Regions from separate parts of the Homo sapiens genome. Here regions 2, 3 and 4 are each linked to region 1. Evidence: fine-mapped expression QTL. A gene starts in region 1. Each other region holds a variant in brackets. All regions are shown on one strand. Distances are from middle to middle.

Region 1 (8,000 bases):
AATAAATCTGCTTGTTATCTAAATCTACCATCTTAACAAAATGACCACTTTCTCAAAAATTTAGCTCCCAATGGCATCTAAAACATGCCTCATTCTCAAAAGTCTAGGACAATAATTAGAGTCTCAGTACTAATGTTTAGCAATGCTTTGTGGCATTTTTCTCTCTTGTGTCTAAACTAACATAAAACACAGAAAATGGCAGCACGAACACCAGGACACCAGGACGGGGAGGCGCCTTAGAAATTAGCTAGTCCAAGCTACACTCTTTAGGGAGGCTAGCTTTATTTCTTTTTCTTTTTTTTTTTTTTTGAGACAGAGTCTCGCTCTGTCGCCCAGGTTGGAGTGCAGTGGCCGGATCTCAGCTCACTGCAAGCTCCGCCTCCTGGGTTTAGGCCATTCTCCTGCCTCAGCCTCCTGAGTAGCTGGGACTACAGGTGCCCACCACCAAGCCCGGCTAATTTTTTGGATTTTTAGTAGAGACGGGGTTTCACCGTGTTAGCCAGGATGGTCTCGATCTCCTGACCTCGTGATCCGCCCGCCTCGGCCTCCCAAAGTGCTGGGATTACAGGAGTGAGCCACTGCGCCCGGCCTAGGGAGGCTAGCTTACTTATCACAGAGAAGCAATTTATTACCAAAACCCAAGTTTTCATTTGTAAAATAGTTTCTGGGTGCTAAAGTGAGATAACTGTGGTAAATGTACTCAATCTTCTCTCACTTTGGGGATAAATGGGTCCCTTCAGCAACACGATTTTGGGCAGAGTATTATTAAGTTACGAAAAGAAACTTTCAGTTATACTTCCATGTTCACATCACCAGGGTTTTTAGGTTGTTGTTACTATTTCTTACCATAGTTCTTTCAAAGCACATATTTGCCCATTCCAAGAGTAATCATTTACAAGTTAATAGCAAGTGAACTGGACAAGTCTTGTGTAAACCAGCCAACCCTCAAGCAAATTTCAGAGTCAAGAACATATTTTACACCTTGATCTGAGAGTGATAAATCCCAGGTTCTTGTGAACTACTAGAGGCAGAAGATTCCTTTGGAAAATGGGCTGTTGGCCAATCTCACTGGGCCGCTAAAAATTTCATTTTTGGGAGGAGAGTCTCTTCTCTGGAAACGATGTCTTTAACATCACGTTTTCGTTCTCTCCTTTTCCTCTTCCTTTCCTTCTCCTTCTTCCTTCCTCCTTTTTCTTCGCCTTTTTTTTTAAAAAAAAATAATACAGGCCTACAATCTCTTACTGAAACCCCAAGGGCCAGATATGTGTGGATTCAGAAATTTTCGGATTTTAGAAAGGTAACACATTGCATATAATAACATATTCCTAATTACCCCCAGTAGGGTCTGGGGCAATACTTCATAATCAACCATGTTTATATTTTGCAGCAAAACATACATATTCACATGAGGTAGGATAAACAAGACCACACATAGCCTCACATCAGTTCATTTCAGATGAATTTTACTATTAAGAACTATTTGTAAAGCTACATTTTCAGGGATTTTTAGTAATTCTGGTTAAGGAAGTATAGGCCTGTAAGGACATTACCAGCATACTCTTCTTCTCTTGATGCATTTAAAAAAATGAGTATGTGTAGAGTGTTTCCTTGATCCATGTTGAACTTTAATTTTATTGTTATTTATTGGAAGCTACTCATTCTTATATTAATCTCAGAAAGGCATTAGCTATGTTTTGCTCTGGTCTTGCTTTAATTCTAGGCTTATGCAGTAGGCAAGTTAGATTTCTAAGGGATGATGGAGGAATAAATGGCTCTAGCATTCTACCAATTTGGTATCCTCTTTAGGCCACCAATGAACTTGGTAACTAATTGTTGTTTTCCACCAGCCTTGCAATGCAACACAGCTTTGCAATTTTATTTTTTTGAGGCTACTAAAGCTTCCTGTATCTGCAAAATTAAACTAAAAGAAACAAGAACCGGAGTTGTATATAAAGAGAGAACAGAGAATACCAAGCTTAACTTTGTCCTTGTAGAAGTATTGATTAGTCTGGTTAATGCTGTACTAGACATCAAGGAAAAACCCGACTTTCTTTCTTAGATCCCTCATAGCCTCATAGAGACCAGCCCTCTACAAATCAAGACTTGAAAAGTTATTCAGCATATTCCCTCATGTCAAAAACTGTAGCTGGGAAACTAGGTAGGCGGGAACAGAATCTGCCTGGTGTTGGAGAGGATGTATTAATATAAATAATAAACACAAAACATGAATTGTAGAAGGTTGCAAATAGAGGAAAACTTCAGACACCAAAAGGATCAAAAAACATAAAAAGAAACAGATACAATTTTTAAATTGTAACTTGTTGTCTAGTGCAATGATAAAAGCTATCCACGAATACAGCGATTTTAGAAAGTTAAATTTTACATGCAGTGCTACTAAAATACCAAAGGCCATACATAATGTCTGACCCAAGCTGCCACCTCATATAGCAACTTCTTACATGGGGGCTTTAAAAAGATTGTTTGACTGGTCTACTGTCCTGCAGTGTCAGGAGACGGCTTTGTCTGACATATTGAATTTCCAGTGTCTCTCACACTTCCTCCTTTTCAGATGCACAAAAGGTTTTTGTAAAGTTTCTCTTGGTTTTACCGCTGGCAGCTACAGAAACCATGCCACAAGTCTGGTGTAGAGTTATAGGGTGTGATTTTATTTGACTGGTATCTTCAGAGCTTCTGGATTTTTCAGTATAACCGAGAATTTCCTTAAGAGCTGTAAATAAAAATCGGTACCAGTTCGAACCCTTTACTGGCCCGGTTTTGTGTGAGGTTGGCTGGCTGCTGTAGCACGTTCTCCCCCTCCTCCTCCTCCTGCACCCCCTCGGTTCCCTCCTCTGCCTGCGGGAATACCACTTCAGGGCGTTCAGCAGCCTTCCCAGGGTGGGTCCTGGCCTAGTACCCTAAAACTATAACCGAGAATACCTATCATTGGGCAGCCTAGGAAACGCGACTGGGACTTTTAGTAGGGGCCCCTCACCGCTCTGAAGCACTCACACTTGAGTCAGGGAACATGGGTTTGAATCCCCACCCGGCCGTTTATCTTGTGCTCTTGGGCACACTGTGTCCCCTATATAAAATAAGCACCCATCTCTTCATCTGTCTCCTAGGCCTGCGACGATGCAATGACTGCACGCAAAGCGCACATTCACGGTCAGGTCACTTCTGGCGTCCGGCTGTGGTCCCCGCAGGGTGCCCGCCGGCGGAGCGCATCCTCCGGCAGGGGGCGAGCTCCGCACCCCGCTTTCCTCATGGGCCGGCGCGGCCCGCCGTTCAAGTGGGGAGCCCAGAGGTGCTCCGCGCCGTGGGCGGGGGGCGGTTGGCGCGCACAAGGCCGGACTCCGGCGGGGCGCACCTCCACACGCACCCTCGCGGGCAGCGGGTCGGAGTCGGGGCCTCGGGCCGGCTGGGGGCGGGGCATGGGCGCGGCGCGCGGGGCCCGGAACGCCGAGACAATGCGGCGCGCGGCGGCCAGGAACGGCTCGGCGGGCCGGGGCGCGCGCCGCCTTCCTTCCTGCGGGATCCGCTTCCCGGCGGCGCGGCAGCGGCGAGCGCGCCGATTGGCGGCCCGGTCCTCCCGCCGCCCCGCCCCACGCCCGGCCGGCCGCCGCCCCCGGCCCGGACCCGCCCCTCTCCGCGGGAGGCGTCGGGGCCCGCGGCTGGGTGGCGGGTAGTTCCCGCCGGCTGTGCGCGCCCGCCTCGGGGCTCGCTCTGAGAGGACGCGGCGGCAGCGGACTCGGAGCCCTCGGCGCGCAGGCGGGCGGACCGGCCGAGCTGCGCGGGGCTGCGCGCCGCCCCTGCTCCGCCGCCAGGCCCCGCGCGGCTCCCGCGCCCGGCGCTCCCCTTTGTCCGCGGGCCGGAGCGGCGGCGGCAGCGGCGGTGTCCGAGCGGCGGTCGGAGCCTGCTGCGGCAGTTGAGGCGGCGGCGCCCCTGCGGCTGTGCGCCAGCGCCCTCGCGCCGAGGCGATGCCGGACCAGATCTCCGTGTCGGAATTCGTGGCCGAGACCCATGAGGACTACAAGGCGCCCACGGCCTCCAGCTTCACCACCCGCACGGCGCAGTGCCGGAACACTGTGGCGGCCATCGAGGAGGTGAGGCGGCCTGCGCGGCGGCTCCGGCCGCAGGTATCCCGCGCCCCAGCCCCGCCCGCCGCTCCCGCATCCGCATCCCGAGAAAACTTTCTTTGCTCCGAAGCCGGACGCGGCCGGGCCAACCCTGCCCGAGACAGAAGCCCTTTGTTCCCGCCTAGGTGGCTCGGAGGAGATGGGTGATGGCCACCTTGGGCCTCTTTAAGACCTCCCCTCTCTCGGCCTCGTGGCCCTCGCGGGGTTCCGCGGCCTGGTCTTTTCCCCGCAGCGCGGCCAACTTTGTCCAGAGTCGGGGTCCGCGGCGAGCGGGGGATCCCGCTGCCCGCCGCCGCCCGCCGCCGCCCGGGGTCTTTGGTACCCGGTGCGGACCTTATCAACTTGTTCTTGAAGTGGACCGGCGGGGGCAGCTCCGCGCTCCGAGCTCCCCGCCGCAGCCCCCGAGCGCCGCAGGGCCCCCACCCTCGGGTCCGCGGGTCCGGGGCATCCCGGGCTGCCCGGGAAGGCGTGCCCGCCTCAGCCAGGGCGGCCTGGCTGCGCTCCACCCGTGCCCGGAGAAGGAACTGCGGGCAAGGTGTGTGAGAGTCGGCGCTTCTGGGTCCAAGAAGCCTCCAGGAGCCGCTCCCCGGTTACCTGGGTCTCACCTGCTTGAACCCGGAATGCCGCCCTTCCCCCTCAACCTGGAAAAGGCCTGGTTTTAGTAAAGTGCTCTCAAGGTGCAAAGTCATCACGCCTAGCTGCTAAGCAGTACGCTCTCCAGGTCCTGGGGAGAGGAACACGTAGGAACGAAGAAGCTTGGTTGAAAATTAAAGCCGTGGGGAAAGGGGCAGAGTCTGTGAGTCCAGGGGCCACCGTTGGCTGTGGTTTGAGGCACATCCTCACCTGCAGTCCTCCTTTTCCTTACCCATCAAACGGGATTAGTAATGCATCCTTTCCAGGATCAGAGACTGTGTGAAGTGCTTAGCACTCTGCTCGGCTCAGAATAGGTTTACAAGTCACACGTGTGGCAATAGTGAATCTGTGATTAAATGTCTCTGGGCCAGGATGTCAGGTTACAGTTTTAAAATTGGGTATTGCAGGTGTTTTAGCAGAAGACGCCTGGGCTAGCAGGAGTGTGTGTGTGGGTGGGGGGGTGGGTGTCACCAAAGAGCTTTAAATGAAGCAATGGCGTTATTTTTTTTTTCTGGTTTTTTTTTTTTTTTCCCATTTGAACAAAGCATCTGCTATTAGGAATTGCTTGAAAAAAAATCCAGAATGTTTTCCCTTAATGGAAAAATTTTTTCTTTGTAGCTGTAAACAGTCAATAAAAGGGAGTCAAAAGTAACATTCAGCATTCTGAATCCTGTTAATATAACTTGGGTAGCCTTCCTTCTCTCCATTTAATTTGGCGGAAGAGAGCTGCATGTAAACCTTTCCTATGAATTCGGTGATTCCCCAGATCACTTAATTCTACTTTTAGCAGCAAGGCTTACAGATGATGCCTTCAAATGAGGCAGATGGGGATGGGTGAATGAAATTTTTTCCTAAGTGCCAGTTAAAAAGCACGGTGTTTTGAGAATACACCATTAATAATGTTTATGGAATGATTGCAACCAAAAAGGTAGCTGAATATTTCTTAAGGGAAGGAAGCATTGTGCATGATGTCTTTCTTTAGAAAGCTTGATTATGTTTAAAGTTCTGTTGCTTTTCCCCACTGCAGTTTGTCAGTTAAATATTATTAACACTGGCAGATGTTGGAAAGCCAAGCAAACAAGAATTGCTATTAAAATTGGCATACCTTTCTCTGATTAATTTTAGTTTACAGTGTATAATTCCAAAGCTCTTTTTGTATGCTGTGCAGGAGATTACCCTAGAGCTCAGTTACTGAGCAGATTACAAAGAGACTGGATTTGGTCATTTCATTAAATTGCAAGCTTGCTTCATGCTGCCGTCTAAGCCCAAGAATTGGTTCAAGTCTCAAAATGGAAAAATTAAAATCATTTCAGGTTTATTTCACTTTAAGCAAATCTACATACATGCTATGATGATGGTATGTGTGAGCTTGGTTTTATAACTAAATTTGAAAGTTGTTCACTTTCTGAGGTAAATCAATGTGGATTTCTTTAAATAATGCTCTTTCCCAGGTGTCTAATGTTCGTGTCTATTACCAAAACTTGTTCTATGTATGGTTTAATAACAATTGATGTGTACAGTATTTTGGTTTTAAACAAAAATCTTCTCATACTGAGACGAAACATGAGAGGGTATCATGACATAAAGTTACTCATTTAACAAATAAATAAAATTTGCAAGCTCTTGGTCTTATGTTTAAACAAATGAATCACGGAACTAGCAAACTAATTTTATATTTATTTATTTATTTGTTACGGAGTTTTGCTCTTGTTGCCCAGGCTGGAGTGCAATGGCACAATCTTGGCTCACTGCATCCTCTGCCTCCCAGGTTCAAGCGATTCTCCTGCCTCAGCCTCCCAAGTAGCTGGGATTACAGGCATGCGCCACCATGCACAGCTAATTTTTTGTATTTAGTAGAGATGGGGTTTCACCATGTTGGTCAGGCTGGTCTCGAACTCCTGACCTCAGGTGATCCACCTGCCTCAGCCTCCCACAGTGCTGGGATTACAGGCGTGAGCCACCACACCCGGCCAGCAAACTAATTTTAAACTGATTAACCTTTTTGAATCTGTTATTTCCAATGTAGGTTCTATCTGCCAAAGAATCATTTTACAATTAAAATGTGCTGTTTTGATTTGCATACTTGTTGCTGGAATATTATTATAGTAACTGTTGGGCCCTTATCCTGTACTATGAAACTCACAGGTATTGAATTCAGTCCTTATCTCTGCTTTATAGGCGAGGAAATTGAGGCTCAGAGAGGTTAAGTAATTTGCCAAAGGTTATAGAGCTCTGAAGTGGACTTTGAACTTGGCTCCTGCTGTTTTCAGAAACCATGCTGCTTCCTGTTACTTTTCTTAATGCCGAATTCTCTAAATTACTCCTTTGTCAGATTGACCTGGGTTCAAGTTCAGGCTCTACAGCTTGCCAGCTGAGTGAACTTGAGTGAGATGCCTAACATTTTCTTATTTTCCTCAGCTTTAAAGTCTGGTTAATAATACCTATCAACTTCAGAGGATTGTGGTGAGGGTTTAGGAAGATAGTACATAGCACAGAAGCTGCCAGACAATTAGTTACCAGATTATATAGTTAGTGAGTCCACAGGCCCCAGTGAGGGCTTTTGGAGTGAGGATGGGATTTACATGGGGGGAAGTGTCAGGGAAATGGATGAATGGCTGAATGGGTGAGTGAATGAAACACTACCGTGTATCTGTTAACCCATGTGTTTTTTTTTTTGAGATGGAGTCTCGCTCTGTCGCCCAGGCTGGAGTGCAGTGGCTCGATCCCCACTCACTGCAAGCCCCGCCTCCCAGGTTCATGCCATTCTCCTGCCTCAGCCTCCCGAGTAGCTGGGACTACAGGTGCCCGCCACCATGCCCGGCTAATTTTCTGTATTTTTAGTAGAGATGGGGTTTCACCGTGTTAGCCAGGATGGTCGATGGTCTAGATCTCCTGACCTTGTGATCCGCCCGCCTTGGCCTCCCAAAGTGCTGGGATTACAGGTGACCCATGTGTATTTTTTAAAAGTTTGTTGTCAGGCCAGGTGCGGTGGCTCACGCCTGTAATCCCAGCAGTTTGGGAGGCCAAGGCGGGCAGATCACTTGGGGTCAGGAGTTCGAAACCAGCCTGACCAACATGGAGAAACCCTGTCTCTACTAAAAATACAAAATTAGCTGGGTGTGGTGGCGCATGCCTGTAATCCCAGCTACTTGGGAGGCTGAGGCAGGAGAATCACTTGAACCCAAGAGGTAGAGGTTGCGGTGAGTCGAGATCGTGCCATTGCACTCCAGC
Region 2 (8,000 bases), 57 kb after region 1:
AGGCTCTAAAAGGCACATGACCTTGTTTGCATCGTCACACTCCTTTTTTAGAAAACAATCTCTGCTGCATACAGAGGTTGGCTTTGTGCAGGGCCCCAGCAATCCTGGTGGTTCCTTCCTGCCTTTCTTCTCCCTTCCCTATTCTGGGTTTTTCTCCTCCCTGCTTCCCATTCTACCATAGGGGAATGGGGTCAAGTCTTTTGGATGGGAAACAGGAACTGAGAAGTTGAAGATGGAGAAATGAAAGACTAAAGATAGCAGGGTTTTAATTTTCCCTCTGAAAAGCCCAGGAAGAGCCCCGGATTGTGTAACCTGGACACATGCAAATGATGACCCTGCCCCTACTCTATCTGCTTCTCCGCCACCCTGGCCCTTCAGAAGATTCTGAAACAAGGAATTGGTTACCCAGGGTGGTTAGGGGGGTTGTGCCTGTGTCCCTGGTGAACTTTAGATTCTTGTGCCCCTGGTGAACTTCAAATGCTAGTGTGCTGGGAGCCGTATGACAGCCCCTTGGGGTGGCAGGAGCTGGCTTGTGTGGAGGAGAGCCACTGGCAGCTTTCTTGGTGAAGGGGTGGACAGCACTCTTGGTGTGGAAGTAGCAGCCCCCTTGCCTGTAGCTGGGCTGGGGTTAGTGGAACAGGGTTTAGAGAAAGCAGGGGTAATGCCGGGTGGTTATTTTCCCCAAATGTTAGAGAAAGCCAGCGCTTCTGGCTCTGGAAGTGAGGCTGTTGGGAAGTGGGAGGGGGAGCACAGCTCTGGAAGCTGCCTTCCGTCCTCCCTCCATTGGCTGGAGCTCTCCCAGCATTTCATCGGTTCAAAGCCAAACACATGATTTTGGACAAGTCACTTAAACTCTTTGAGTCAGTTTCTTCTCCTTTAAGCTGGGGAAAGAGGTGGTGATTTCACAAGTGGTTGTAAATATTGCAGTAAAGATAATGGAAGTAAAAGTGCTCTGTGGAGTGTAAATTGCTGTATGGTAGTTGGAGTTGGGCCCTAGGTGTGATTTTAGAGTACACACCTACTGCTGCCTTGGTAACTTAAAAGTATTTATCTCAAATGCTAGTGAGCTGAGCTGAGTGGCACAGTAGGCCTTTCTTTCCCTGGGAGCACTTTGGGAGCTTTGGAGGTTGCCCAGTGCTGCCCCCAACCTTTAACAGTGTGGCCGAGTGTAGGAGGGAGGGGGCAGAGTTCCTTCTGGCTGGACTGCCACATGCAGGGGAGAGGCCCCGCTGGTGGTGTCCCAGGTGGGAGAGGGGCAGACCTGGGGTTACCTCAGTCAGGGTAGGTGAGGAGGGGATGGGTGGACACCCCGGTGGCCACTCCTACTCACCCCTGCACTTAAGACCTGGGGTTTCATGCCCTGCTCCTTTAACCCTCAGTGTTCAAGAGAGAGGCCAGTTGGACCAGAGCGCCTCACCCCACCATTTGCCATGTGCCCCTCCCCGTGGGGAGTCAGAAACACCTGAGCACACCAGGAAAAGTTTTGAAAAACAATGTTTTTAGAGACAGGGTGTTGCTACGTTGCCCAGGCTGGACTCAAACTCCTGGGCTCAAGCGATCCTCCTGCCTCAGCCTCCTCAGTAGCTGGGAATGATAGGCGCGTGCCATCATGCCTGTATGAAGTTTTGAAAAATTTAAATGTTGATGGAAAAAAAAATGTATTAGTGGAAATGAAAGGCTGGTATAAGCTGTAAAGTCTTTTTGTTCTTAGAGATTTTTTTCTCATTCTAAACATTATCAGACCTGAAAAGTATTTGTCGTAATGACTGAGACGGTCCTGGGGTAACAGCGTCTTCTTAACGGCCACTTTAATTGGCGTAGTTTACACCTAGCCTCTCCGAGAACTGGAGGACACTGGTAATCACTATTAGATATTGAGTGCTGACTGTATGGCAGACACATAAGCATTGGTGATCTCCTGTGAGGCAGGTATTGTTATTCCCAATTTATAGATGAAGAAACAGAAGTCAGTGAGGTGGAGTCCGTTTTTGAGGTCACGCGGCTAGTAATTGGAGCCTGGTTTAGAACCAAGTCAGTCTCATTCCAGAATCCAGAACCAGTGATTTGTAACTGATGCACTTGTCTCCAAAGGGATCCAGCACTGGGTTTTCTCATTTTTAATGCATCCATTCCTTAAAGCCTCTGTTCACAGTCACAAGGTGTACTTTTTAAAGGAACACAGCACACAAATGTGACCGCTAGTGGACAGCAGTGGCAGCCCAGTTGGATGGCAGAGCCTGGCATGCCGACTGGGACAGAAGCCCCAGCACACGGTGTGATGATGGCGTCTCCAGGCTGACCTCCATGGCCTCAGGAATCAAAGTCCTCAGTCTCTTTCACGCGGGGTTCAGAAAGAAAACTCGGCTATCTTACATCTCCTCTCCCCTGTTTATTTGACTAAAGTGAAGTTCATGTGGCTTGAGCCTCGTTTCCTGGGGAAATCAGCCTGGCTTAGGATTCCATTGTCTTCTGGGACTGGGAAGATGTGGAAGGCTGACCTCACGCCCAGCTGAAGGTCACCTTCCCAGACTCTGAGCTCGGCTGCCTTCTGCATCGCCACGGCTGGAGGGCCTGGCCCAGGCCGTGGCTGCATGCTGGCTTTCCACTGTCTCGGTGTCCCTGCTGCCTGTCAGTAATGTGCCCAGCACCTTCTGGTGTCATGTCCCCTCTTGTTTGTGATTCTTTTCCTGAGCTAGTCCATTTTCTACCTCGAGTCTGCTCTCCTGCCATTCCCAGGGGCCACAGCTCAGTAATGTGGGTGTCAGGGAACCCCAGGCCAGGCCCCCTTGTGCCACTGTGGCTCTCCCCAAAGCAGGGCACCAGGCTGGCTGGGGGGGTCCTGCCCAGAGCTGCCCCACGCTGCCGTGTTTGTGCTGCTGCTGTGCAGTGGTGATCTTGCCAAAATGTGGCTTTTCCTTTCTCACTCCCCCAGAGCTCCCAGAAAAGTCTCTAGGACTTTTCTTCCCCCTAAATAAAAGTCAGGATGTGAAGCCTTTTGACAGAATTGGAGTTTACTGTCATCTGTTTCCGTTTCTCTAAGATAGGGATCCTGGCGAAGCCCATGAAAGCCATGGGGCGCTCCCACCGAAGCCTCCGAGGCACAGACCTCCCGGGAGTGCCTGTGGGCGCTGCTTCCTTAAACTGCAGGAGGCTGCAGCCTCTCGTTGTTCATGCGTCGTTTTTTCATAGTGTGTGTGGGTTTAGAGCTACATGGGTTCTTTTCTCACTTATCTGTTCATACCGCATGACACCGTCCACTTCAGGC[A/G]CAGTTGACGGCCGTCTGGAGGTCATCAGCTGAGGGCACAGTTTGCCTGGTTCTTCTATAATAGGTTAAGTATTTTTTTCTCCATTTTTTTCCCTTTTAAAAGTACTGCTAGAAGGCCAGGTGCCGTGTCTCACACCTGTAATCCCAGCACTTTAGGAGGCCAAGGCGGGCGGATCAGTTGAGGTCAGGAGTTCAATACCAGCCTGGCCAACCTAAGGAAACCTCATCTTTACTAAAAATACAAAAATTAACCAGGTATGGTGGTATGCACCTGTAGTCCCAGCTACTCAGAAGGCTGAGGTGGGAGGATCACTTGAGCCTTGGAAAGAGAGGTTGCAGTGAGCCAAGATCACACCACTGCACTCCACCCTGGGCAGTGAGTGAGACCCTGTCTCAAAAAAATAATAATAATAATAATAATAATAATAAACACAAGTACTGCTGGAACTTCTTTGCAGAAACAACTTGTGGGGAAGGAGGGAGGTATATTTTAGTATTTGGCCTTGGGAAAAGGTTTTGCTTCTGCAGGCATGTCTTCCAGAGACTGGGGGGGCCCGTGCTGGCGTCACCACTGTCCCCTTCCCCATCAGGAACCTTCCTTCCTTGGATGGCATTTCCAGTGTGTCCGGGCCTCTGCTGTTCTCATTATGAGTCCCCAGCTCTGACGGCCACTGTGGCTGATGCACAGGGTGTTGGAGACAGTGATTCAGCCCAGCAGGCTGTATTCATGTGCTGTTCCTCTGTACACCCAGAGCTGTCTTCTCGCTCATCATTTATTAATCTTTCCCATGCAAGTCATACGTGAATATATCCTTGTGGTAAAGTTTTCAGGTGATAGCGAAAACTCAGTCTCCTGTCACCGTCTTCTCTCCTCATCTAGGTGCGCGCTATAACTAAGTCCTTTGCCTCTTCCAGAGTTTTTTTCTCCCTGTGTACCATTGGCCCTCTGCACTTGTGGGTTTTGCATCCTCGTGTTCAGTCACATAGGGTCTCAAGGGGAAAATATTCAAGAAAAAATATCCAATAAAAACTAATACAGCAATTTAAAAAATACAAATTTTGGCCAGACACAATGCCTTATGCCTCTAATCCTAGCACTTTGGGAGGCTGAGACAGGGGAATCACTTGAGCCCAGGAGTTTGAGACCAGCCTGGGCAACATAGGGAGACGTCTCTGCAAAAAATTTGAAAATTAGCCGGGTGTGGTGGCATGTGCCTGTGCTCCCAGCTACTCAGGACGCTGAGGCAAGAGGATCACTTGAGCCCGGGAGGTGGAGGCTGCAGTGAGCCGTGATCACACCACTGCACTTCAGCCTGGGGGACAAAGTGAGATCCTATCTCAAAAAAATAAATAAATAATGAAAAATACAAATTTTTAAAAATACAGTGTAACAACTGTTTACATAGCATTTACATTGCATTAGATATAAGTAATCTAGAGATGATTTAAAGCATGTGGGAGGATGTGTGTAGGTTACATGCAAATATGACAACATTCTACATTACGAATTGAGCATCCTTGGATTTTGGAATTCAACGGAATCCCGGAATTAATCCCCCATGGAGACCGAGGGACTACAGTTTTGAGTATTTTTGTTTTATTGTTTAATCTGTCCCTTTGACACATTTTTGTGCTCAGAGTTAAAGACCTCAATACCCTGCTTGATGGGAGGAGAAGAGAAAAGGGTAACAAAGTATAGGATAGTACTTTTCATTTTCTTTAATTCGAAAAAATTATCAAATAATGTATTCATGTTAATGATAGTTTAAAAGTGGGAAAACAAAAAATTCCTCCAACTTTTCCTAAGACAACAATGATTATTTTCTTTCTGTATCTTTATATACAGAGTTTTAAGTGTTTGATATATCACTTGTCTATCCTCTTTTATAAGTATTTTTTTCTTTGCTTTTACAATTTGTGTGTGTGTGTGTGTCTGTGCGTGTAATGGATTTAATAAACAAGCTTGTGATTTTCATTTATGTATTTATTTTTTTGAGACGGAGTTTCACTCTTGTTGCCAAAGCTGGAGTGCAATGGCACGATCTTGACTCACTGCAACCTCCACCTCCCCGGTTCAAGTGATTCTCCTGCCTCAGCCTCCCGAGTAGCTGGGATTACAGGCGCGTGCCACCATGCCCAGCTAATTTTTTGTATTTTTAGTAGAAGCGGGGTTTCACCATGTTAGCCAGGCTGGTCTTGAACTCCTGACCTCAAGTGATCCACCCCCCCACCCCCTGCCTTGGCCTCCCAAAGTGTTGGGATTACAGGTGTGAGCCACCACACCCAGCCCATAAGCTTGTAATTTTCTATTTCTGAAATTGGAATTTTTATAAAAACGATTGCCTTTTTATCTTTTTTTTTTTTTTTTGGACACAGGATCTCACTCTGTTGCCCAGGCTAGAGTTCAGTGGCACAGTCATAGCCCACTGCAGCCTCGACTTCCCAGACTCAAGTGATCCTCCTGCTTCAGCCTCACCAGTAACTGGGACCACAGGCACCTACCACCACACCCGGCTAATTTTTTTACTTTTTGTAGAGATGGGGTCTCACTGTGTTGCCTAGGCCTGTCTGAAATGCTTAGGCTCAAGTGGTCTGCCCACCTCAGCCTTCCAAAGTGTTGGGGTTACAAGCATGAGCCACTGTGCCAGTTGCCTTTTCATCTTCTGCAGAGCTGCCTTACTTGTGTTTTGTCCTCAGTGCTGTTCCTGTGCGGGTGGTGGGCGTCTGCATGTACACAGGCCAGCTTCCCTCACTGCTGGGGGGCCTGCAGGTCTGGGTGCACCTTGTTACCCAGGCTAGCCTTCCTCTGCAGAGGTGTGAACTCTGCCACCACCCCGTTCTAGTCAAGATGGGAATGGAATCTCAGAAAGGAAGCCATCTAGGAGAAAAATGAAAGAAGTGTTTCTCTTATGTTTGCTGCCGTCAAAGTTGCTACTTTAGGAGCTCAGAAAAACAGTTATTTGTAAGATGGATTAAGTAAGTAGTTTAGTAAGATTGCCCAAAACCACCTCCCAGAGTTAGTGGGAAGCGCCTGATGCTGGGGAGAAAAGCCCGAGGCCTGAGCTGGCCGACCTGCATTCAGTTTCCTCTGTCTCTAGCTTCTCTCTGATGGTTTAGAAATGGTACTAAGGGATTCCTAAGTCCCTTTTGCTTCCTGTGGTCAACCAACATGCTAGGCTAATAAATTACTCCTGAAGTTCACTTTCATTTTGGCAACATTTTCTGGTTCTTTCGCCAACTCTAATTTCTTTTCTTTAAAAGATGCTTTAATTTTACTTGTATTCTTAATAATATATCTTATATATACACACACATAGCATTAAAAATTTTTTCAATGAGATTTTTTTAAAAAATTCAACTTTTATTTTAGATCGGGGGGTACATGTGTAGGTTTGCTACGTGGGATATATTGCATGATGCTGAGTTTTGGGGCATGATTGATCCCATCACCCAGGTACTGAGCATAGTACCCAACAGTTAGTTTTTCAGCCTCTCTCCACATCTCTCCGCTCTCTAGTAGTCCCCAGTTTCTATTGTTTGTTTCTTTATGTCATGAGTACTCAACATTTAGCTCCCACTTATAAGTGAGAACATGCAGTGTTTGTTTTTTTGTTCCTGTGTTGATTTGCTTAGGATTAGGGCCTGCAGCTGCATCCATGTTGCTGCAGAGGACATGATTTAGTTCTTTTTTATGGCTGCGTCATATTCCATGGTGTATATGTACCACATTTTCTTTATCCAATCCACTGTTGATGGGTACCTGGGTTGATTCCATGTCTTTGCTATTGATACAAATGACATTTAAAGAATGATTATGAAGGCCACGTGCAGTTTCTCATGCCTGTAATCCCAGCACTTTGGGAGGTCAAGGTGGGTGGATCACTTGAGGCCGGGAGTTCGAGACCAACCTGCCTAACATGGTGAAACCCCCGTCTCTACTAAAAATACAGAAATTAGCTGGGCGTAGTAGTGCACACCTGTAGTTCCAGCTACTCAGAAGGCTGAGGCCTGAGAATCGCTTGAACCCAGGAGGCAGAGGTTGTAGTGAGTCGAGAATGCACCACTGTACTCCAGCCTGAGCAACAGAGCAAGACTCTATCTCAAAAAAAAAAAAAAAAAAAAAAAAAGAATGATTATAAAGCCTGGTTTTGGCCAGCACTCCAAGCGCGCCCCGCAGGCCTGTCCCATCGTAACGCCCTCAGAAGCTTCCCCTGCCCTGACTGCAGCCCTCAGCTTGCCTCAGTTTGTAGTTTGCCAACAAGGTGTATATCCCTAAACATAAACAATTTAGTTTGGCCTGTTTTTGAACTTTTTATACTGCATGTATTCTTTTGCTCAACATTTTTGTCAAGTTCACTTGTGTTGTGGGGTAAGTTTGTTCTCTTCCGTTGCTGTGTAGCATTCTGTTGTACGAATGTCCATCATCAGTTTATTCATTTTACCATCGACATTTCGGTTTATCCAGTTGGGGGCTGTTTTGAGGAGTGTTAGGACAGCCTGTCCATGTCTTCTGTTGTGGATGTATATTTACTCTGAGTAATTTTAATTTTTTAAGATAATACCAAAACACGCCCTTCTCATCTGTCCTTAGGCACACACTTTCCTCAGCTGTGACTTAGCTCAGACGTCTATTTGATCTTAATTCTTAGCGACACCTGCTATTCTTCAGGCCTGGCTTTATTCCCACAAGGGGGGAGGTTCGTTATTGCTCTGGCTTTAAACGGAGCCCACAGGT
Region 3 (8,000 bases), 170 kb after region 1:
CCAGCATGGCGAGGTCATCTCCTGCTGTGCAGTTGACACCTGCTCTTTCAGCTGCTTCATCTCACACTGACGGTACCAGCACCCTGTAATGCTGTCATATCGGTCAGTTCTGAACAAAGTGTGTGTCGTTTCTTCCAAGCACCAGGGGTACCTAACGAAAGCAGGGCATTTGGTTGTTCTGGGGCTAGGCGATTCTAAAAAATGAACACTGTCAATGTGGAACCCTTCAGTATGAACGTTCTGTCTGCACTGTAGCCCTCCTCCAGCCTTGGCACTGTTGAAAAAGAAATTTACATCCCCCAACCCCGGGCTTTTTTCAAAATGAGGGCGGATGACCCGTGTGATGGCGAAACATCAGCTACTTCCATTCCTTCTCAACTGAAATTACTTTCTTGGCTCTGTGCTCCTATAGCATTTGGCTCTATTTTAAAACATTTCATCCCACTTCATAGTATACTCAGGCATTTACATATATTTTTCTGATGAATTACTTCTTACTCATTTTGGTTTTTCCCACCGTAATATGTTGCTTCTGGTGAACCAGTGACTATTTAATGAATCAGCGAGTCAAACAAGTACTCCCAGCTCTGTGCCTGCTTAAATAAGCTAGTATTTTACTTCCAGATGAAAAGGAATACACTGCTTCTAGCTTTATTTCAGAACAGCACACCATCTGCAGATAAATCTGTTGAAGGGGAAACCAAGGACACCCTCTAGTGGCCTGTGAATCCCAAGACGGATCTTGGGGGTGTCAGGGACGTGTAACTGGGGGAGGTGGAGCAGGGAAGCTAGGCTTGTATTTGCTCACAGGAGCCAGAACTGTTTCTCCCTGTGACTTGGGACCATTATACACACCCTGTCCTTGAGAAGTGTAAGGAGAGCCCCTCCTCTGAACACCAAATGTATCATTATGTTAATTGTTTTTCTGCAAAAGCCTGTCATTAAAAAAAAGAGGGAGGGCCGGGCGCGGTGGCTCACGCCTGTAATCCCAGCACTTTGGGAGGCCGAGGTGGGCGGATCACGAGGTCAGGAGATCGAGACCATCCTGGCTAACACGGTGAAACCCCATCTGAGGGATCACATTAGCAAAGCAAACCTCCTTCACAAAACCAGGGGGCATGTGTGGAGTTAAACAGACCTGTGCCCATGTTTGTGTAGGAGCTGCCTTCGGGGCCTCCAAGCCCTGGGCAGATGAGTAAATACATTAAAAAACAAGTAAAGGAAGTCCACTTTCTCTCTATCCCTTTCCTGTGGAGGTCGCAGTAATGATTGTCCCACAGTGATGATTGAAAGTGCATGAAACTGGACAACTGTCCAGTCTAACTGCCTGTCAGAAGAGGCATTTACATCATTAAATGGGCTGCCCACCATGACACTCGCCAGGCCAGGAATGGAGCATCTCCCTGGGTGTCACACTGTGCTGGAGGCCCTAAGAGGAGAACCTGCAGGAATAAAATGGGTCTTCCCTTGTAGGCCCACCAGCTGCCTGAGGAAACAGAATCCAGTTTCCCTTTATGGACTTCAGTGTACAGTAAATCCTGAATGTTCCAGAAACTCAAAGGTTTCTGGAAACCTGTGACTTTAAGCAAAATGATGTATAAGAAACCAGTTTTACCCTATGCCAATTGATGTAAACCAGAGTTCAGTTCCTACCATGTATTTCTGATCATGAGAACATCACCAAACTTTTGAATAAAGGCCCAGAACACTTCTAATATTAAACATTGAAATATGAGCGATGCATACATTTAAGAAAGATTCTGGCTACTAAGTGGGATAAAGAAAGATCATAAAAACCAGTAAGATAATGATTCACCCACTTATTCCAGTTCAGGGTCAGAGGTGGCTGGAGCATGTCCTGGCAGCTGAAGTCCAGGGTGGGAACAAGCCCTGAACAGGACCCCGTCCCACTGTGGGACGCAGTCACACCCACGTCCACACTCAGTCGCAGTGGGGCCTTTGAGACACAGCAGTTAGCCGAACGTGCACAGCTTTGGGATGTGGGGGAAACCGGAGTGCCCAGAGAAAACCCAGGTGGACTCCACACAGACAGGGACCCTGCCTGGGAATTGATTTTTTTCTTAACATTATAACAAAATGCTGTTATTCGAGGGCCTGTTGTGCCTACAGGTGGAGATGAAAACTCATGGCACTGTTGAGGGAACCCACTGAGACCACGTATCTCACACACAAGTCAGCCAGCACCGCAGTGAGCTCAGTGCACGGGTTAGCGCTGTGTGGACGGGGAGCATGTGCCGGGGGACGTTGAGGCACCCGCCTTAACCTAGGCCCTGTAGAGCGGGCAGAACTGGAGCCGGAGCAGGAGGGAGGCAGTGTGATAAAAGTGCCAGAGCACAAGTTCACCAGGTGCCCCTGGAAGTCCTTCCTGGGCTGTGAAGCATGCTGCCTGCTCAGGTGGAACGGGCACCCTGGGGCGTGATTTCCTCTCCAGCTGCACCAGCCAGCCTCACGCTGCGGCGTGTCCAGGAGCCACATGCACCCAAGGACAAGCAGATTTGAGGCCTGGCAGACGCTGGCAAGAGACCTCTGCCCACTCAGTTCCGTCTGGGTGCTGTGGGAGTAATGGCTTCTCATCTTAGGCTGGCCCATCTTCAAGGGACCCCAGGGTAGACAGGATCTCTACTCCCTGCCTCCAGTGGCATGTCCAGGGAGCTCAGGCTCCCCTTCTGGGGGGCCAGTTGTTCCACGGGGATTTAGGGCAGGTACAGAAAAGTCAACAACTGCTCCAGCAGCCATGGCCCCTTGCCATAGTCAGCTGAGTGAGAGAGCGGAGGTCAGGAGGGAACCGTGCGGGGACTCCAGCTCGAAGGGGAGCAGCCGCATTTGTCCTCAGATTGTAGGCAGTGCTGTGTTACAAATGGATGCAACTGATCTGCCCCTGCCTGGCTCTTGCCTGATTCTCAAGATTCAAAGAGTCCCTGGGCAGTGACCCTCAACCTTCAGAATTGGGATTGTAAAATGCATGTACTCTGTGACCAGTGAGCTGCTGTTTCGCTCTCCCTCTTGTAAGTTCACTGGGTCTTTCCAAGGCCC[G/A]GGACCCACTGTGTGTGCTGCAGGTGTGTTGACGCACATACGTCTCATGGTGCTACTGTGAGGATGTATTGTGTGCATTTTCGCAAGTCAGACTTACAAGTCTAGAGAGATGAAATACTTATTCAAGTTCAAAGCAGCAGTGTGTGGTGGGAGTGGGATTTGAACTCAGGCTTCTTTGGCCCCCTTTTGTTCCTGCTTCTGTAGGCTCTTTGGATGGGGCGGAGTCTGAGCATGTTGCCACATAAAGGCCAGAAAGTAGAACACAAAGAGGACTGCCATTTCATTTCAGTTCATCTGATAGTGCCTTTCATACCAGGCATGGTGCCTACAAAAAAGAGGTCATAGTCCATGCCCCAAGGAGCTCATGGGCCTGTCGGGCAGTGAGGCAGGCAGGCCTTCATGTAGAGAATGTTGGAACAGAGGTTGGCCAGGGCTGCATGGAGGGCAGGGGCAGGGCCTTCCTGGGGGAGGAGGCGCAGGGCATGCGGATTGGAAGGACCTGAATAAGAAGGGTGTGGAGGTGACGAGGGCGACAGTGAGGTCAGATCACAGAACTTAGGAGTGAGGGGAGGGAGACAAGGCAGAGAGGCGGGTGGGCTGAGAGAACATGGGGAGTTGTCCCCCTGGCCAGTTCCCAGGAGGTCGCAGTGAAGACCAGTGCAGCCGTAGAACCACATGGCGGCCACTCCCGCTTTGTGTTTCGGGGCCAGCGGTGCTTACCAGGGACATGGCGCAGGAACCGTTAACATGGCCTTAGACAAAGGGAGGCCGGACGGCGGGTAGAAGCCCTTCATGATTTGCAAGGCAATTACGTTTGGTTTCAGGAATGCAAGAAAGGACTACATCACAGCCAAGTACATCGAGAGGAGATACGCAAGGAAGAAGCACGCGGATAACGCGGCGAAGCTTCACAGTCTTTGCGAGGCCGTCAAAACGAGAGATATTTTTGGATTGCTCCAAGCTTATGCTGATGGTGTGGATCTTACGGAAAAAATCCCACTGGCCAACGGACATGTAAGAGTGTGGGTTGTTGCTACTTTAAAAAAAAAAAAAAGGCCGGCCACGGTGGCTCATGCCTGGGATCCAGTACTTTACTTCAGGAGGCCAAGGCGGAGGATCCTTTGAGCTCAGGAGTTTGAGATCAGCCTGGGCACCATAGGGAGGCCCCATCTCTACAAAAAAAAAAAAAAAAAAAAGTAAAATTGGCCAGGCATGGTGGTGTACATTTGTAGTCCCAGCTACTCAGGAGGCTGGGGTGAGAGGAATCGGTTGAGCCCAGAAATTTGAAACTCCAGTGAGCCGTGATTGTGCCACTGGACTCCAGCCTGGCCGACAGAGTGAGACCTTGTCTCAAAAAAAAAGGAAAACTGGGGCACTGTGGCAGGTCTGTGGAATCAGCAGTACTGACCAAAGCTGGGTAATTCTCCAGAGGAAGACGGCACGGAGAGGGGTACTGGGGTAGAATAAACTAGGGTTTTTTCTTTTCAGTAGGAAAATAATTGTATCTATGTTCATGGGGTATGCTGTGATGTTTTTGATCTATGTTTACATCATGGAATGATTACATCAAGCTAGCTAACATATCCATTACCTCACAGGCTCATCCATTTTTAATGGAGAGCACATTTAAAATCGACTCAGTTTTGAAATAGACGCTATGTAGTCTTACCTGGAGTCACCAGGCTTTGTAGTAGATCTGCAGGATTTATTCTCCTTGTCTAAAACTTTGTACCCACCTAGTGGTTTATTCTTACACCAAAAATGTAATGCCAGCTCTGGAAAGAAAACCCATCTCCAGGTGGAGGAGAAGACATCTCAGAAGCTAGGCAGCCTGAGAGGGACCCCTCATCTGCAAGCAGGTTTAACCTGAGCTTCATGCTAACGAGAGAAGCTCTCTGAGAGGGGCGGTTCCCTGGAACCCACACCCCACTGTGCTCCCCCTCAGAGGGAATAGAGTAGGAGCAAGACCCCTCCTTTCCTGGGGGAGCTGTCTTGAGAGGGTGGGCATCCAGCTGGAGTGGGTTTGCAGTAACATACCAGCACCCAAGTGGGGTGGCATGTGTCCAGATTCTGGTCCACAAATACCCTGTAGATGCACATTTGGTCCCCTGGAACCTCCTGACCTCAGGACTGGGCTGGCTGCCTATCAGCAAGGATGCCTCACGGCTGCAGCATCTTTCTCTTGGTAACAGGCATGTCCGTGCAGGCTCTGAGCTGGTCCCACTCTCTCCCCATCCCCAGAAAGAACTCATGCCCACCAATGCAGTGTGGAGGGTGCCCAGCACTGAGCTGTGCTGCCGCCAGAGGGCCCAGCAGGCAGGGCAGGCGGCCTGGGAAGCACCTTCCTTTGCCCTCACCTCCTGTCTTCTGTATCTGTCCTTCTCCTCTGGTTCTCTCACCCACCCACCTGCTGAAACAATCCTTGTTCATCTCTTCTCCCCCACCTGCCAGGTGTACTTTCAGAAAAGGCAGTGGAGTTGGGGAATCCCCAGTATGAGTTGGAGACAGTGCAGTTATTAGCATTCGTAGCCTTGTCTGTAAGTGTAGAACGCAAAACTTTAAGCCTGCTTAAGAAACATATGTTTCTACTCAAGGAGCAGGTAAAGAGATTGGATTGTAGGTGGCCTGGGGGACCTTCCTGGATCCTTTGAACAAGATTCTTGCTTGCAGGCAGGGATCTGCCTTGTGGTGCTGATGCAGGGATGGGGACAGGTCGATTGAGAGGACTTAGAAATGAAACTCCTGAACTTCTCATTTATTTCCCATGGAGTCAGGAGAAACAGGACGAATCTCCAAATTGCACGTTCCCAAGGGCAAAGAGCTTGTGTAGAGATTAAAGAGACTCTATGTAAGAGATAAGTTTCTCGAAGGGAAAGATAAAAGACTTTTGGAAGAGTTGTACACGATTTCACCGGTGTTGGACACAGAATTGAATGCTCCCATTAGAATTCTGGAATGCCTTTGTTTGGTTTTTCAGGAGCCGGATGAAACGGCCCTCCACCTTGCAGTCAGATCCGTGGATCGAACCTCTCTTCACATTGTAGACTTTTTAGTTCAGAACAGGTAGGTGTTCTGAAATTAAGGGAGGCACTCGTTTTCTCCTTGGTATTTCTGGGGAAGGAATCGGACGCTGCCTCATCGCTTCTGATGTGTTGTCAGGAGAACCTTCCCAGTTCTAAACATGAATTAAAGACAGAAAAAGGACTGCCAGGTGTGAGGTACTCCATGGCAATCCTTTAAAAAAGCACTAGAAACTCTTTTGTGGTAATTGCAGGGTCCAACTTCTAGTGTCTGGTACTCAGGGAGACACCAAGTAGATATGGCTACTGAACTTGGGGACCCCATGACCACCCTCTGTGCACAGGGGCCGTCCTCGCCTCATCCTGTGAGCCAGGTCATCGTACTGCGCAAGCAGTGTCCTGAGCAGTAGGGAGGTAGCAGGCAAGGAGGGATCCACACATTAGCCATGGTCTGAGCCAGAGATTAGAAACCAGAGCACTGGATTATGGGTGTTTTGTTTGGGTCGAGAAGTTGTTTTTATGCTTTGATTAGAAATGGCCTTTAGAGATGTGCACAGGCAGTTTACCACAGATCTGGGAGTCCCCGTGGTTTGGGGCATATTGCTTCAGTCATGTGTTACCTGCCTGGCAGCTGAAGGCTGGACTTCAAGACCCCTCAACGTGTATTTTGACTCCCTGATCGTGGTTTGAGCCATGTGTGTACTGGAGGAGGAGGAGGTGCTGTTAAAAGCCACAGAAATTGCTCCAAAGGAAATGGAAAATTCCAAAATGCAAAAGCCATGGGATAGTTTGCATTTTGTGTCCTCTGCTTTTTCCTCCCATTTCTGAGCAGAGGAGTGAAGAAATGGCCAGAAAGTAGGGGAGTGTGGGGTGGTCAACCCCAAGACCTGCAGCTTCTTCCTGAGGAGGCTGAGTTCACTGGACTCGTGGTGGAAGCTGCCCTGATGCCCCATCTCTGAGTGCCAGCCCGGCTCCTAGAACGCAGCAGGGGTTTCGTAAACATTTGGTTGATAGCTGCGTGATGCCTCTCCCTCCATGCACATTTTCAGGGGGCAGGAGAGGGAAGGTCCCAGTTTCTTTTTTTCCAGAGTGGAAGGAGGACAAAAGTGGGGGAGAATTCTGAAAATGAAACACACCCCCCGCTCCCCATGCCCACAATTTGGTGAAAAAGAAACTCCTTTTTTGATATTGAAAATGTAATTGGTTTCCTTCTCATGGAAGCAGCAGGTGCCACTTCCTGAGATCGCCTTTCTGTCTCCACTTTGTGCAGGGGCACAAAGCTCACTGCCCCTCCTCAGAATGTGACAGTGGCCATGTTTGCTAGGATTGAGGGCCTGTCCCATGTCTGCCAAGCCTGAGCACCTTTTGTGGGTGACCTGGTCTTGTGATATGTTGGAAGAACTTTTGAAAATCTCAAGATTCCCCTTTAGCCTGTTTTCAGAGGGTATTCCCAGGGCAAACAGGCCGAGGAGCCTGGGGACTCTGGGCTTTGGGAAAGTGACTTTTCCCTTTCCTGGAGGGAATATCAAATAATGATAGAGAAAAGCTCAGCCTCCGTCCTCCCGTGGGACAGGATGGATGAGTCACACAGGCATCCAGAGGCCCTGCATCCAGCACAGCTGGCCGGCCTAGCACAGCAGCCTCGGCGCAGCCAGTGGGACGTGAGAAGGACGCTGGGCTCTAGGTTCACCCCGGTAGTGCACTGCCCCACCTTGGCCCCACATGCTCAGCAACAACAGGGATGCCCCCCTCCCCTTTTGACCTCTTCTGCCATCATCGTGTTATTTCCCTGATGACCTTCTGCTAAGGCTTCCCCAGCCATGTAGGCAGGGACGGTGCCAGGTCCCACCACCTTGGCGATGATTTACAGAAACCGTTCACTCGGGGACTGTCTGCCTTTCCTGTGCCCGTAGCCCAGGCTCCCTG
Region 4 (8,000 bases), 180 kb after region 1:
GGTCTGTGCCAGGTTGCTAACCATTAAGAGTTTTGATCAGCTTCATCCAGAACAGTGTGGGTCCTAATCTGTAATTAAGGCAGAAAGCTGTTTTATAGAAATGAAAATGTAGCTTACTTTATGCTTTCATTGATCTCAGTAGGCTCTTGGTTTTACCCTTCCCACTACCATCTCCTGTCTCCCAGCTCCTGCACCCATTAATTTAAAGGAATGGCTAATTATGTACTTATAGGCAGCCTTTTGCTACAAAGGAAAGGTGTGTGTGGCGGGGGGGTTGATTCCAGTGGATTTAGAGGAAGGTCTCTTGCTATGGAGTCATGTCATAAAGAGCCAGATTTCCCCCAGTCTAGGTGATCACATTCTCCTGGTTGATCTTATAAAAACATCAACTGAAATCATCAGACGACCTTTAGAGCTCACTGGGTCCAACCCCTTCCTTTATCAGTTTGGGATATTGAAGCCTCAAGAGAAAAGTTGACTTGGCCAAAGTGAAGCAGCTATTTAGAGGCAGGCTTGGGACTGCACGAAGGCTCTTGCCTCCTCCTCCAGCTCCCTTCTTACCATCCTCACTGCTTCATACGCAGGGGTGAGCCCCAGGAAGGTTGCTGCCTTCACGCAGGACTTGGAGCTGAGAGTCAGACTTAGGCCTTGTGACCCAAAGCCCTGGCTCCTAGCCGCGACCCACTTCCATCTGTCCTTCAGCATGGTGCTTCGAGGCATGTCTGGAATGTGCTCTGTGCTGAATTAGTGGCAAATGCCACATTAAACACATTTTCATGGTTTGGCTTTTTTTTTTTTCTGTAATGCATTAATGTTCTGATGTGTATTGAGGATATCTAATTAGATGGATGGATAGGTCAGTAGGTAACCAGATGGCATTTCTGAAACCTGTTGGACTGTCTGCTCATGGAGTTAACATCCATACTTAACTGCTTCTTAGAATACAGAATAAGAAATTACTTCACTGAGTTAGCTACAAAACACTGTCAAAGTGAGAAGAGTTGACTGATTTCATACTTAACCTGCCTTAAAAAAAAAAAGCTGGAAGCAGTCTGCCCCAGCCTGCCTCTTCATCAAGCGGTCAGATGCCACATTCCCATTTGATGAGCAGTGATGAAGCAGGTTGCATAGTCCAAGGAAAAGCACAAGAGCAGGGGCTGGTGTGGAGTCCTAAGACTCATCCACGCTGCTCACCTGATTCTCAGCAGACAGCAGCCGTGGGCTTTGCAATTTAGAAATATGTGTGAAGAACCACTGGGTGCTTAGTTCTGCACACCTGAGCTGGGTTTGAACCATTGGTTTGTCCAGAACCTAGAAAGGGTTGGTGGTCCTGTGAGGGAGAGGCAGGGCTGCCACAGTTCATACTGAGCACCTGCTAAGCACCTGGCATTGTGCTAGAAAAGCACTCGTCATATCCAGTGAACAGACAAGAATGTGGTCAGCAAGGTTGAGTCATTTGCTCACAATCATACCTAGTTTAATGAAGCTGGCATTTGAAATAGAAGTTAGGTCTAAGTTACCTGAGTCATCATTCCATGCATTCACTTCCAAGAAAGCACATGACCGGCCGAGCGCGGGGGCTCACGCCTGTAATCCCAGCACTTTGGGAGGCTGAGGCGGGCGGATCACGAGGTCAGGAGATTGAGACCATCTTGGCTAACACGGTGAAACCCCGTCTCTACTAAAAAATACAAAAAAATTAGCCGGGCTTGGTGGTGGGTGGGGGGGCGCCTGTAGTCCCAGCTACTCAGGAGGCTGAGGCAGGAGAATGGCGTAAACCCGGGAGGCGGAGCTTGCAGTGAGCTGGGATTGCGCCACTGCATTCCAGCCTGGGCAACAGAGAGAGACTCTGTCTCAAAAAAAAAAAAAACCATATAACCTTCAGGGGGGAGCAGGGGTGGCCAAACTCTTAAAGGGCCAGATAGTAAATATTTTAAGCTCTACGGGCCTAAAGCGTCACAGTCCATGTTAACAATTACTCAGCTCTGCCAGGATGGCTCAAAAGCAGCCTTAGACAGTATCTAAATGACAGGACATGGCTATGTTCCAATAAAACTTTACTGACAAAAAACAGGTGGTAGTCCATAGGCCACTGTTTGCTAACCCTAATTTGGAGGAATCTCAGGAGCTCCTGTTCATATGGGAGGAAAACATCGATCTCTGCTGAATGAGCCATATAGCTGTTGGAGATTGAGTGCAGCGGGCTGGCCAGAGCTGGCCACCCTGTGGGGTAGCATAAGAAGGCATGTTTGGGAAGGGGAACTTCAGGGAAAATGCTGACTTAGGTTGAGATAACTTCGACTCATAAGATAAATAGCTTATATTTTAAATCCATCACAGAATGGAGAATTTTAACCTGTAATTAACAGATTTTTTGGTATGTGTGTGTTTACTAGTCAGTTCTTACACTGCTGTAAAGAAATACCTGAGACTGGGTAGTTTATAAAAGAAAGAGGTCTAATTCACTCACACCTCCACATGGCTGGGAAACATACAATCATGGCAGAAGGGGAAGCAGGCACCTCTTCACAGGGTGGCAGGAGAGAGAGCAAGCGAGAGCAGGGAAAACTGCCTTATAAAACCATTAGGTCTTGTGAGAACTCACTATCCCAAGAACAGCAGAGGGGAACCGCTGCCATGATCCAGTCACCTCCTTCCCTCGACAAGTGAAGATTACAATTCGAGGTGAGATTTGGGTGGGGACACAAAGCCAAACCATATCAGTGTGTGTTTCCTTCACGAGACACAAGGAGGAGTGAATTTTCACTCTTGCAGCTCTCACGCAACTTGTAGCTCTCAGGCAACAGTTGAGAGCTCAAATGGTACCAGGCCCAGCAGAGTTGGTGTCAGTGAGGTTTTCACCCCTGTGTTGAATGTTATCACCAGGAGCAGTTCATATTTGTCTCACACGCCTCTGCCCCAATGTTCTCCTGCAGCCCAGTCCCAACCGGCGGGAAGACCGGCCCATCAGCTTCTACCAGCTGGGCTCCAACCAGCTTCAGTCTAACGCTGTATCTTTGGCCAGAGATGCTGCAAACCTTGCCAAGGAGAAGCAGAGGGCTTTCATGCCCAGCATCTTGCAGAATGAGACTTACGGAGCCCTCCTGAGTGGCAGCCCACCTCCCGCCCAGCCTGCAGCCCCCAGCACCACCAGCGCCCCCCCGCTTCCTCCACGGAATGTTGGCAAAGGTATGAAGCTGTCCGTCATCCCTGTGAATATATAGAGGGTCTTGTTTTGTGGTTTGGGAAGTTTGCAGCTGCCCTGCCTCCAACTCAGTGACCTTTGGGCTCTTTTGTTTTGTAGTTATTTTCTG[T/C]TTGCTTCCTAAAGGGATTCCATCATTCTTATCAGGCCAGATGGTGGTAGAGTCTCTTGATTTGACTCTTATTCTGGGCAGAGTTGTGGCATCTGCCTGGCTTGGGTAACATGGGAACTCCCCCAGGGCAGCCTGAGGTGGCCAACTGGGCTCCCGGGGCTGGGCCAAAAGACACACTCCTTCAGGTCTCCCCTCTGCACCCTTCTGTTTACCTTTCTCCACTCCTTCCCAGGCCTTCATTCTTCCTTTTTATTTCTCTTCTGCCTTCATCTGGTCCAGCTCATGGCCCCTGCGATTACTTCTTACCCATGATCCCCATAAAAGATATTGGGGAACGATGCTCGGCCTAATTGTAAAATACAAAACCAGCCCTGTGGGCCTACCAGTGTCTTAGGGCAAAAAGCATGCTTTTCTTACCTCAGCTGTAACCTGGAGGTTTTGACTCAACAGGTGACACTTTCTGTTTTTAGAAATACGCAAACCAAAGCTCTCAGAAGTTAAGTAATTTGTTCATTCCTGAAGAGCAGCTGGCTACGGTGCTTCTTGAAGGCAGGTCCGGCGAGTGACCCACTCAGCTCTGGGCTGAGCTCCAGTCGTGGCCATGGCCTTCAGAGGGTTTCCCACATGAAGGAGGCTGCTGAGACTTTGATGCGGGGCGGGGGGCCCAGGAAGGACAAGAGTCTGCACAGAGCATGTATCCAGGCATTGTGGCCGCTGTGAGCCGCTGATGGAGTGGAGCCCACGTCCCCAAATACATCCCAAACTGTCCTTATGTGGTAGCTGCTAGCTGGGCAGGCTGGGTCGGTGCGTGAGGGTGGCTGAGGCCGGGAGACCTGGCCCAGGGCTGAGCAGACGGCTGCAGCTTTGTGCTGCACGTACACTCGGCTGTGCTGCTGGGCCCATCTTCCCTGCCGTCCTGGGTGTCTCACAGACCCTCACACGGCTCTGCCCCTGTCATTCAGGGAGGCCCAGAGAAGTGACAGTGAACCTGTCATGTGAGTCACTGAGTCATACCCCGAAGAACAAACCTGCTGAGAGCAGACCTTCCCCCAGGCAGGCCCAGAAGCCAGCTGCTTGCTGTCCCCACACAGCCCACATCCCAGACCGCGTCCATCCCTGGCTTGATGAGGACGTCCCTGAGCACAGAAGGCAGCTACAAGATGAAGCCACACAGTCGCATCTCCTCCCTGTCAAACCCCCAGGCTGGCTGGTCGGGGCCCAGGGTGGGTGCGGCTTTCTCCCCGCCTCTCCCAGATCCTGCAGGCAGGCATCAATTTTCTACGGCCCACAATCAAGATGATTTTGATCATCCTCCTTCCCAGCAGTGGCTTTTGCTGACTGTGTGTGTCACGGGAGGAAAGATTTTATTTTGTTCCACTGGGTCATGGAGGGGTAAACTCTTAATCTCCTGGTTTCCCGAAGTCTTGGAATTCAAGGGTTTTGATTTTTTTTCCTTTTTCTTTTTGCCGTTCCTGTCCCTAGCATCATTTCTTCTTCCAGTAATGTAGGTCATACCCCTTACCTGCCATCTCCACCATTCTCTGTGTAGCCCACATGTGGTCTTGGATGGAATTCTCACATGCAGATAAATAGCAAATGGAGTTGACAGTGTCAGCCTTGCATTTGGGGCGGACCTGGCTCCCCAGGGGAGGAGCTCGAAGGCTTCCTCTGGACCCAGTGGCCTGGCCCATTTCTAGGCCTAGCCTTTGCCCTACAGGCCGTGCACAGCCTCCAACATGGGGTCACACCTAGCACCTGGGCCCTGTGCACCTGAGCTTGGAGGTTTGTGAGGCAGAAGAAGGGCTTGTGACCTGGAAAATGCCATCTCTTGTGGGTCACCTGAACCTGATTGGTGTCATCTGTGTCTGCTTCCAGCCAGAAATATGTTTGCGGGAGGGAGGGAGAGAGAGCCCCTCCTCTAGTGTCTGATTTGCACTCTGCCCCCAACCTGTGCCAGCTGGGCACACGGTGTTCCTCTTCACATGGTGGTGACTCCCACAGCCCATGGGAAGGAGTCGGTGGGAGGGTGGAGAGGAGCAGAAGTTCCAGAAGCTCCAAGTGCAGTGTTCGCAAGAGAACATTGTGACTGTTTATTTCCTTCTTCAAATGATACTGATATTTGATAAATAAACTCAGGAATTTTAAATTTCATGGATTGAGAAAACCTGCTGAGAATAGTCCTTGGAGCCTCTTCGGTTTCGCGAGTATCAGTGTCTATCTTCCACATGCCGGAGACAGGAGTAAAAGCATTGAGGGTTCTAGGTAGAAGGGTCATACTGACCGTTTCATAAGGGGGAGGATCAATAACGCAGTGTTCTGTTTCTGTTTTTGTTCGTGTGTGCACGTGTATGTGTGCGTGCATGCGTCTGTGTGCATGCGTGTGGGTTCAGTTCAGACAGCCTCCTCTGCTAACACCCTGTGGAAGACAAACTCTGTAAGTGTGGACGGTGGAAGCCGGCAGCGATCTTCGTCAGATCCGCCAGCTGTCCATCCACCGCTGCCCCCTCTTCGCGTGACATCTACCAGTACGTTTTTTTCCTTTTTCCTTTCTTGCCCGTGGGCTTTGTAGATCTGGATGGCGGGGGGTGCTCTCTGGAGCCACACAGCTGCCAGCACAGACACGTGCCAAGTGCCCCGTGTTGTATGGCTCCCTGTGGCTCTTGTGCAGGGCTCTCAGCTCCCCCAGCCTCCTTCGTCACAGCTGCAAACCCCTGCCTGTCCCCACACTGCACCACCAAGTAGCTTCCTCACTCCCTTCCTCTGTCTTCCAAAGCATTTCAGCAACATTTCCTCCTTTACACAGTACCCCAGGGTTTCTTTTTCCTTTGGCCATTTGGTGATTTTCAATATTTTGGGGACAGTCACTTGGATTAGAATCTGGCTTTTTGTTTTTCTTTTCTTTTTCTTTTTTTTTTTTTTTTTGAGACAGAGTCTCACTCCATCGCCCAGGCTGGATGCAATGGCACAATCTTGGCTTGCTGCAACCTCTGCCTCCCGGGTTCAAGAGATCGTCCTGCCTCAGCCTCCCAGGTAGCTGGGATTACAGGAGCCTGCCACCATGCTCAGCTATTTTTTTTTTTTTTTTGTATTTTTAGTAGAGATGGGGTTTCACCATGTTGGCCAGCCTGGTCTCGAACTCCTGACCTCAGGTGATCCACCTGCCTCAGCCTCCCAGAGTTCTGGGATTACAGGCATGATCCATGGTGCCCAGCCTTGTTTTTCTTTTTAAGACAGGGTCTCTCTTTGTCCCCCAGGCTGGAGTGCAGTGGCACAATCATGGCTCACTGCAGCCTCCAACTCCTGGGTTCAAGGGATCCTCCTGCCTTAGCCTCCTGAGTAGCTGGGATTATTGGTGCAAGCGTATTTTTTGTAGAGACAGGGTTTTGCTATGTTGCCCAGGCTCGAATTCCTGGGCTCAAGTGATCCACCCGCCTTGTCCTCCCAAAGTGCTGGGATTACAGGTGTGGGCCACCACGCCCAGCCTGGCATGTTTTCTTTAATATCAACATGTGGTTGAAAGTCCTGAAAACCTTGGGTAAAGAAGCGGGAGGAGGTTTTTAGGAAGAAGTTTTTCTCCAGTGTACAGAACTAAAGTCTTTTTTCACTGGATCAGAGAAGCGAGCCCTGGATGCTGCCCTGTCTCCTGCTGCAGCAGCCCTGGAGTGGGGAGTCCAGCATCTCTGGGCTTCATTGCTTCCAGAGCATGAGAATTCTAGAGCCGAGGTGCTCGTGACTTCCTTAGAGTAAGTTAAAATTAAAAGCAGCCCAGCCCCAGCTAGAGTCAGTGCCATGTGTGCACATGCCGGCAGCAGAGCCGGGAGCAGTGGGTCTGGGAGGGTCTTCAGAGGTTTCCAAGGCGAACACACCAAAGGCCAGAAGGAACCACTTTCCTGCCTCTCCGTCTGGTGGTCCAGGGGCTGCATTTGTGTGCTAGAGTCAGACTTTTGAGTTTTCCTTTAAATTGGAAAAAGGAAACAATAATGATAAAAAGAAAGATCATAAGCTGGATCCCTTCATGTTTCCCCACGCCAGTTTCCTCTCTGTGTAGCTGAAGGCCTCATTCTTCCTGGCTTTTCCTGGCAGAGGGAAACCCAGCGCCTTATGTGTTACCCATCCTGAGGCCCAGTATGATAAGCCCGACATTTAGAGAGGGCTTAATGCCTATCAAGGGAGGAGAGACGGAGGAAGGAGACTTGGACTCACAGCCTCCCTCCAGGTCTTACCAGCTCTGCCACCCTTGACGAGAGCTCTTCCCCTCCGTGGGCCTCAGCCTCCTTGTCTGTAAAACGTAGACACTAAGAAAGCTCTTCACCCACCCACTCCGGAGACTGAGGAGCCGTTACTAAGTTAGTAGCTCCCATCTCTCCTCAGATCCACCCTGCCCAGCAGCCCGATGAAGTGGGTAGGGCCTCATCCCTTTGGCCACAGGTCAGTCGATGTGCAAAGCAGGCCCTGCTTCCCCGGGCAGAGCTGAGGGCCCCGGCCTCCTGCTGTTGGGTCTTTGAGTGGAGAGCAGGAAACTGCTGGCTTTCCCCCAGGGAGTTCTAGCTGAGAAAATACTCACTCACAGGCTGATAGAAAAATTGTCATCCTAACTTTAGGCTCCCAGCTTCCTTATTAGTTTGGAAAGGACTCCCTGCTTCCTCCCTGTGAATGGTTTTCTGAAAACTGGCAAGGAAATAGCAG

Alleles and levels. Positions count from the first base shown, and alleles are read on the strand shown. Sizes are in standard deviations (SD) of each study's normalised expression. Not every link is listed here.
In carriers of allele G in region 3, the expression in visceral fat of the gene that starts at base 3,685 in region 1 tends to be lower than with A alone (small effect, 0.29 SD a copy in GTEx).

Evidence for each region. PIP is the estimated chance that this variant, and not a neighbour inherited with it, causes the effect.
Region 2: its variant is the best candidate, but not a certain one, in a credible set for the expression of ASAP2 in whole blood (INTERVAL, PIP 0.65).
Region 3: its variant is the best candidate, but not a certain one, in a credible set for the expression of ASAP2 in visceral fat (GTEx, PIP 0.85).
Region 4: its variant is the best candidate, but not a certain one, in a credible set for the expression of ASAP2 in tibial artery (GTEx, PIP 0.79).

Annotation. Positions count from the first base shown.
Region 1 is chr2:9,203,128-9,211,127 of GRCh38, forward strand. ASAP2 (ArfGAP with SH3 domain, ankyrin repeat and PH domain 2) reads left to right here and starts at 3,685. Exons shown (of 28, transcript NM_003887.3): 1 at 3,685-4,103. The coding sequence starts at 3,978. RefSeq lists enhancers at 2,834-3,766, 3,767-4,697 and silencers at 3,215-3,474, 3,221-3,404.
Region 2 is chr2:9,260,531-9,268,530 of GRCh38, forward strand. The region is part of intron 1 of ASAP2 (ArfGAP with SH3 domain, ankyrin repeat and PH domain 2); the gene reads left to right. Among named protein-coding and RNA genes, the nearest start is that of ASAP2, 58 kb to the left of the region's middle. The variant A/G (reference allele first, on the strand shown) is at 3,266.
Region 3 is chr2:9,370,877-9,378,876 of GRCh38, forward strand. ASAP2 (ArfGAP with SH3 domain, ankyrin repeat and PH domain 2) reads left to right here. Exons shown (of 28, transcript NM_003887.3): 17 at 3,879-4,068; 18 at 6,032-6,117. Among named protein-coding and RNA genes, the nearest start is that of ITGB1BP1, 49 kb to the right of the region's middle. RefSeq lists enhancers at 2,590-3,138, 3,139-3,687, 7,852-8,000. The variant G/A (reference allele first, on the strand shown) is at 3,055.
Region 4 is chr2:9,385,358-9,393,357 of GRCh38, forward strand. ASAP2 (ArfGAP with SH3 domain, ankyrin repeat and PH domain 2) reads left to right here. Exons shown (of 28, transcript NM_003887.3): 21 at 1; 22 at 2,937-3,189; 23 at 5,705-5,839. It overlaps LOC124907730 (a long non-coding RNA gene), which reads right to left and starts at 2,831. Exons shown (of 2, transcript XR_007086203.1): 1 at 1,521-2,831; 2 at 1-68. RefSeq lists an enhancer at 7,493-8,000. The variant T/C (reference allele first, on the strand shown) is at 3,315.